Linked DNA regions of Homo sapiens. The protein of the gene in region 1 purifies or fractionates together with the protein of each later gene. This does not show direct contact. Each region holds a gene or a part of one and is shown on either strand. Other genes may lie near its edges. The genes, in order: KIAA1671 and ABLIM2.

What was found.
Region 2: the proteins of KIAA1671 (region 1) and ABLIM2 purify together in Homo sapiens (co-immunoprecipitation; one large-scale study listed by IntAct). This does not show direct contact.

The regions. Positions count from the first base shown.
Region 1 is NC_000022.11:25,043,126-25,046,936, forward strand, and holds part of KIAA1671 (uncharacterized protein KIAA1671), read left to right. Parts: intron 1-3,811.
Region 2 is NC_000004.12:8,148,503-8,152,313, forward strand, and holds part of ABLIM2 (actin-binding LIM protein 2), read right to left. Parts: intron 1-3,811. UniProt on the Homo sapiens protein: May act as scaffold protein. May stimulate ABRA activity and ABRA-dependent SRF transcriptional activity.

The DNA.
Region 1 (3,811 bases):
GGAGGAAGGGATCACTTTAATTACAAGCACACCCTTTTGGGGGTACATAAGCAGAATAGCTGTGAAGAAACCCTCACCCAAATAAGCCACTTTGTTTTTAACACACACACACAAATTCAAATCTACCCAAATATCTATCAGTGAGGCTCTAGGGTGTTGGCAGAGGGCCCCTTCTCTTGATCTTTGGCATATACCTGAGTGTTGGGCAGAGTGCTGACACTACCTACTGCTGTGTGATCATCTTCCTGTACAGATGGGGGGAAAAAAACAGAGGCTCAGAGAGGTGAAATAACTTGTCCCAGGTCACACAGCAGTAAGTAACAAAACTGGTATTTGAACCCAAATCTGGCCTTAATTACCCAACTGGGCCATATTCTAGGAGACCATTCTGGTGAAGAACCACGAAGGTGGGGAAGAAATCTGAGGCATAAGGACCACCCTTTGAAGCTTCTGATCTCTGTGGGGAGATGGGCCATTGTGATCCAAGACTGGGGAGTGATGGGGTGCAGAGGGAGGCACTGGAGAGGTGGCCCAAGGTGTCCTGGAGGAGTCGGTGGTCTCAGCCCAAGCTTGAGGGTTGGCCATGCTTTTGGGTGGGCTGATGAGGGGAGGTGAGGGCATTCTCAGCAGGGCACAGCATGGACAAAGGTTTGGAGGTGGGAAGAGCGTAGAATGTTGTGGGGGACATGTGGAAATGGACTTAGCACCGCCCTGTGTGATGTGGCATCAGCAAATCAGGCCACAGATTCTTCCTTTGCCACTTGCAGCTGAGTGATACAGGGCAAAACCTTTCACCTCCCTGCACCCGAGTTTTCTTGTCTGTAAAAGGGACTAGGTGGCCAGTCTGGAAGTGGATGCTGCAGAAAGGAAACTCTAGGATACAGTCAGTAATGATCATGCGGTGAGGATTTGCCTTCAGTTAAGAGTGGGTAAGTGATGGAGTCAGGCTTTGAACCCATGTCTGTTCCCAAGAGGCCAAGCTCTCCAACCACCATGTGCAGGATCACGCAGACTTGGCATCTGAATCTCCACGCTGCTACTTGCCTGCTGTGTGTAAAGCAGCCTCTTGGCCTCTCCTGGCCTCAGTTGCCATGCCAGAGTTAACAGGGATTCCTGCCCCAAAGCACTGTTATTAGACTGAATTGAAATAAAGCACCGAACTTGGGCCATCCCCGTGTGCTTCCTGAGAAGGGTTTCATCTGTCCCTACCTGCAGGCTGATGTTGTGGTAACAGTGGAAGAAGGAAGAGGCCAAGGAAATGCGACACTTATGTTTGCCAGCACCTTGCTCAGGGCCCGCTGGTGGTGGGGGAGTCGGGATGTTGTGGAGGGGGGATCCTGGGCTCAGCTCTGTCCCGCAGCCCAGCCTTGGATGCCTGCCTGGAGCACGCAGGCCCCAGCAGTGCTGGTTGTCAGGGGATCTGTTTTCTCACCACGGGATTGGGAAGCCTTGGACCAGCTTCCCGTTTCTCTCTTGTCTCCTGCCAAAAGATCTTTGGTTCTTTGATCTTAAAAAAAAAAATAAAAACACACCAATACAGAAGGAAAAAATGTTGGTTGTTAAAATTTTGAACCTTACAGGGGTATAGAAAATAAAAGGTGAGTGTTCCCCCAGAGGCAGCCACCATTACATTGTTTATGTCCTTTCGGACTTTCCTATATTGACAGTCACTTATCAATCATATATATATGCATAATTGTCATGCTTTTCATATTGCAACAGTAGCGAATGCTTGCGTAAAATGTGAAATACTGGCTGGGCACGGTGGCTCATGCCTGTAATCCCAGCACTTTGGGAGGCCGAGGCGGGTGGATCACGAGGTCAGGAGATTGAGACCATCCTGGCTAACACGGTGAAACCCTGTCTCTACTAAAACTACAAAAAAATTAGCCGGGCACAGTGGCGGGCGCCTGTAGTCCCAGCTACTCCGGAGGCTGAGGCAGGAGAATGGCGTGAACCCGGGAGGCGGAGCTTTCAGTGAGCCAAGATCACGCCACTGCACTCCAGCCTGGGCGACAGAGAGAGACTCCGTCTCAAAGAAAAAAAAAAATTTTGAAATACTATAGAAAAATGGTGTAGAGAGAAAATCTCCTTTAAATATTGAGCGTGGTGCATAAACTGGGGAACACCCCTCTAGGCCCATTAGTGGTTTTTAACTATGGGCAATTTTGCCCCTGGGGCACATTTGGCAGTGTCTGGAGACATATTTTGTTGTTGTCACACCCTGGGAAGAGGTTGCTATTAGCGTCTCATGGGTAGAAGCCAAGCATGCTGCCCAACATCCTACAAGGCACAAGACAGCCCCCACTGCAAAGAATGCTCCAGCCCCAAGTGTTTGCAGTTTGTAGGTTGAGGAACCCTGGTCTAGACACAGACATAGATAAAGGTAAATGCATAGACTTAGATATAGGTAAATACATAAGCTTTCTATGGAAAACTACAACAGTCTATAGAAAATCTTGTGGCTTACTTTTGTTTTTTGAGATGGAGTTTTGCTCTTGTGGCCCAGGCTGGAGTGCAGTGGCAGGATCTTGGCTCACTGCAACCCCCGCCTCCCGGGTTCAAGTGATTCTCCTGCCTCAGCCTCCTGAGTAGCTGGGACTACAGGTGCACACCACCATTCCTGGCTAATTTTTTGTATTTTTAGTAGAGATGGGGTTTCACCATGTTAACCAGGCTGGTTTTGAACTCCTGGCCTCAAGCAGTCTACCTGTCTTGGCCTCCCAAACTGCTAGAATTACAGGCGTGAGCCACTGCACCCGGCCTCCCCTTCCTCTTTTTAATGGTTGCGAAGTATTGTATTATGTGACTGAGCCCAATCTATTTTAACCTAGACTCTCATTGATGGGTATTTGGGTGGATTTGAATTTTTGTGTGTGTTAGAAACAGGGTTGTGCCGGGTGCAGTGGCTCACATCTGTAATCCCAACACTTTGGGAGGCCGAGGCTGGCAGATCACTTGAGGTCAGGAGTTTGAGACCAGCCTGGCCAACATGGTGAAACTCCATCTCTACTAAAAATACAAAAATTAGCCGGGCTTGGTGGCGGGTGCCTGTAGACCCAGCTACTTAGGAGGCTGAGGCAGGAGAATTGCTTGAACCCAGGAAGCGGAGATTGTAGTGAGCGGAGATCGTGCCACTGCACTCCAGCTTGGGCAACAGAGCGAGACTCTGTCTCAAGAGAAAAAAAAAGAAGAAGAAAAAGAAACAAGGTTGGTTCCTTGGGTGAGGGTTTCTTGATTTACAGCCCAAAAGGGTGTGATGGTCATTAAAGTGATTCCTTCCTCTCTCCATCCCTTCCTCTCTCCATCCCTTCCTCTCTTTTTCTCTGTTCTTCACTTAACAGACATTTATAGAAACTGTTTCCCAGACCCAACAGTATTTCATTTATTTAAATTATTTATTTTAGTTTTAAGAGAGAGACGATTTCACATGGCTCCACTCCAAAAATACTTAAAAAACATTCCCCTGATACCTGCCATGCTTACATTTCTTCCACCCGGTAATCACTTTTATTCCTTTTTTTTAAATTCCTTTTTTTCTTTTGAGGCTTCTTTATGAAAATACAAGCACATAGAAATACATATTTTTATTTTTGCTTCACTTTTCCATAATAAAGAGCACTTTCTCTAAGTGGTTGAAACTTTGGTTGCCTATGGGAGTAACACAGGGAATCCTAAAAGATATCAATGACTGGGCCTCTCTCCAGGCCAGTTAGGTCAGAATCTCTGGGGTAGGACCTGCCTTTGTTAGTTATGAAGGCTCCCCAGGGGAATCTTGGGTTGAGGATCTCTGTTGAACCCACAGATTTTC
Region 2 (3,811 bases), on another chromosome or scaffold:
CCTAATTCCCTGGGCCTCCGTTTGCTCACCTGTGAAGTGGGAATACTGGTAGTCCCGAGCAAGGAGCTCTGATGTAAGGATTATAGGGTGAAAGCACATCGCGGTGCTGGGTCCACACTGGGGAAGCGCGTAAGCCGTTCCCCCGTGGGCATGCACAGCAGAGTCCTGCTTGCCTGGAAGCAAATGCTACATCCCAAGGTGTCCATTGCCCCAAACCACACAGGAACTCAGAGTCGGAAAGATCCTCTAGGACAAGCCCAACCCCAACAGAGATGAGGAGGCCAAGGCTCAGGGGGTACATGGCCTGGGCTGGTTCCTGGACCCCCACCTCTCCATGAGACCACCCCTATCTCCTCCCAGAGCTGCTGATGTACCAAGAAACCTGGGCTCCGCAGGCACCCGGGAGATCAGGCCACGCCAGGACCCGGGATCTGGAGGCACCAGGGAGAGTCCAGCTGTGCCAAGGCCCAGGGTCCCCAGACACTACGGAGAGTCAGGCCACGCTGAGATCTGGGGTCCCCAGATACCAGGGCAGATCCAGCCAGAGTGTGAAGGGGTCTGTAGGGCTGGGGCCATCTGGAGGCTCCGGGGGAGATCCACTTCCGTGCCTCTTCCAGCTTCTAGGGGCACCCGAGTTTCTTGGTGTGGGGCCCCTCCCTTCATCCTCAGAGCCAGGCGTGGAGACTTCTCTCTCCTCTCTGCTGCCTCCTGCCTCCCGTTAGCGAGAAGCCTCAGGCCCCCTGAAATCCAGAGCAGTCTCCCTGTGGCAAAATCCTTCACATAGTCGCATATGAACAGTCATTTTGCCGCATGAGGTCACATAGTCACAGGGCCTGGGATTAGGACATGGGCACCTTTGAGTCCACTGTTCAGCCCCCCAACACCATCCAAGAGGAGGTATTTCAGAGAGGGCAGGTCCCAGCTCCAGGCTGCAGAGCAGGCAGGAGCAGGCACAAATCTCCACAGGAAACCCCAGCTTGGTCTGTGTCCACAGGTTCAGAGGAAGGAGGGAAGCAGAGGGCCTAGAGATGGGAAGAAAGCTTCACAGAGGCCCTGGAGTCCGGCAGAGCCTTGAAAGGGAGAGGAGGAGGGACTCCAGGGGAGCGGGGGCAGGCAGAAGGCGGCAGGAAGAATGCAAGGCTGTTGGGGGATCAGGGCAAAGACAGCACATAGTAGGTGCTTAATAAATAGTCGTGGAGGGACAGAAGGGACATTCTGGAAGAGCTCTGAGCCCTTGGGAGGCTGTTGACTGCTGGACACAGAGAAGGCCCGGACCTAGGCTGAGACTTCCCCAGCACCTCACACTCAGGACTGGCCCTGCGCCCAGACAGGACGGGGCCTATGGAGTAAGACCCCACACAGCCGGTCCCTCTGTGGGACGATTCAGAGGCTCCCAGTGGGACTGAGTCCCCACTTGCCAGAGTGGTGGCCCCCATCCAAATGCCCCCTCCTGGCTTCCCCTCCCTTCCCCCCTTACCCTCCTCACACCTCCCTCGTGCTTCCTGGGGTCACCTCCTAGGTAAACCACCTGCACCCAAGTTCCCACTGCACCTACTCAGGGAGCCTAAATGGAGAGAGTTGTGGGGCAAAGGGGTTGGAACATCATGAGGGCATTTGAAACTAGGCTGCCAGGTTGAAGGTCTGGATGCTCCTTGGAATTCTTCCTTCTGGGCACTTCGTGTCCAGCTGCAGCATCAACTGATGTCATTTTCCATGTGCGATCCCGGGGACACTGAGGTCTGCAGAAGCAGAGGGTCAGAGAGACAGGCCAGGCTGTCTTATGGAATGACGGCAGACAGATGAGGAGGCCATGCTGAACTGGGGACGGAGTTCCACCCATCACACATCCTCCACTCCTTGGGTGTTCACGAAATGCCTCCTCTCATTCTACCTGAGTGGCTTTCAGGGGAGCCAGTACAAGGCCCCATCGTGCCCTGAGGACAGACGCCAGCGAGGACAGAGGCAGCATGCTAGCCGCAGTGACACTGAGCACTTTTCTTGGTGCGCTGGCTGGACTCACATTTCCAGATCGTCTCTCTAACTCGTCTCTCTAAGCACAGAGAAACCAAAGTCCCAAACTTCCAGCACAGGGTGCGAGCTCCGTGCCGGAGGCGGGAGGAGCCACTGCTGCTGCCTGGGATGGGGGCTGCTCAGTAGAATGCAGCTAAAATGAAGCTTCGAGCTGAGACCGATGACTCAAGACACCACGCCTCCTGAGGATGCTGTGCCGAGAAAACCGGGAGCTGGGTGGCTCTCTGGAGACGGTGCTTCTCCTGGCACTGGGCTGCAGCCTTGTAACCAGGACTGAGATGGGGCTGGCAGGGGAGACAGCAGGACCAGAGAAGGGGAGGGGAAGCTATGAACCCAGCCTAGGGTGTGGCTGATGATGCCAAAGCGGCTCCCACGGGGCACGACGTCAGGTTTGTCCCTGAGCTGTGAAGGGTATTTACAGCTGTGACAAAGGCCATTCTGCCCGTTCCCTGGTGCCTGCCGTGCCCAGGCCCTTGACTCTCACTCAGCATCTCTGAGTCTACAGTAACCCCTCAAAAGCAGCTGTCATCACCTGTACTTTTTATGTGGGGAAACTAAGGCAAAGGGCATTTAAACAATCCGCTTGGAGAAACACACAACTAGCAAGTGACGATTGGGGCTGGAGCCCAGGTGTGCCCAGCCCCAAAGCCAGTGCATCTTCTGAGGCACCCAGACTGGCCCCCTCACATTTGGAAATGTTCAGCCAAGGGAAGTGACATGAAGCCACCCAGCTCGTTATCCGCAGCAGACCTGTTTGTTGTAGGCCTGGAAGCTGCTGATGGCGAGAAGCCCCAGAGCCAGCCCTGGCACCCACAAGGACCAGTGAGCGTCCCAGAATCCAAAGCCCCCTCCTCCGCCCCAGTCCTTCCCACAGACGCGAGGGACCCAGCTGCCCTCCTAGCTCGAGCTCCAGGCAGACATCCACAGAAGCTGCTAATCCACAGGCGGCAAGGCACCTCCCTCCACGCCAGAGACCCTCAGCGTGAGGCCCAAGTACTGCTCACCCAGCTGGGAGCATCTCGAGAGCCAGATGAGAAAGGTGGGCGCAGCAGGGTCCCTAAAATGGCAGCCAGGCCTCACACCCAAACAGTGGGCGGGGTGGGGCGGTGGTGTCAGAAGAAAGCAGGGTTGTACCCCGAGGATGGCAGTGGCCCTGTTTTTACAGATGGGTACACTGAGGCACAGAGGGACGATGACTTGTCCAAGGTCACAGAGGTCCAGGCGAGGGGCTGGAGACGCTGCTGGGCTGGGCTGTGTAAGCAGGGGGAGAGGCACTGCCTTCAGTGGAACAGATGGGCCCTGGGGGGATTGCAGGACTTGGGGTGGGGGTGGGGGAGTCGGAGCAGAGGGTCAGGGTTCCAGGGGGGCACATGGGCTCAATGTGGTGAAAGTCCTTCTCAGGCCCAGGCTATCTGAGGGTGAGTCACAGAGGCCATGCAATGACGCTAGGCAGGAACCCCCATAGGAGGCGGGTTTGGGTCTTGTCCTGCCTCCTGGCTCTGTGCTGGCAGGTCCCGCAGCTGGAAAATGGGAATAACACACCACGGCCCAGGCGAGAAGATGGGCTGTGTGAGACCCTCACCAAGAAGCGCCATCATGATGCCCCCAAACGGGCCAGGCTTTATCCACACCAACACTCAGCCACGCGTTATGAGGCAGCAACCAATCCCCCACAGCCACCGGCTAAAGCACGCAGGCAGGGGATAGGCAGACAGCGCCCGCCTAGCCAGGGATACGCGTGTTGCGGCTGAGTCGGGCACACTGGGGTTCAAATCCCAGC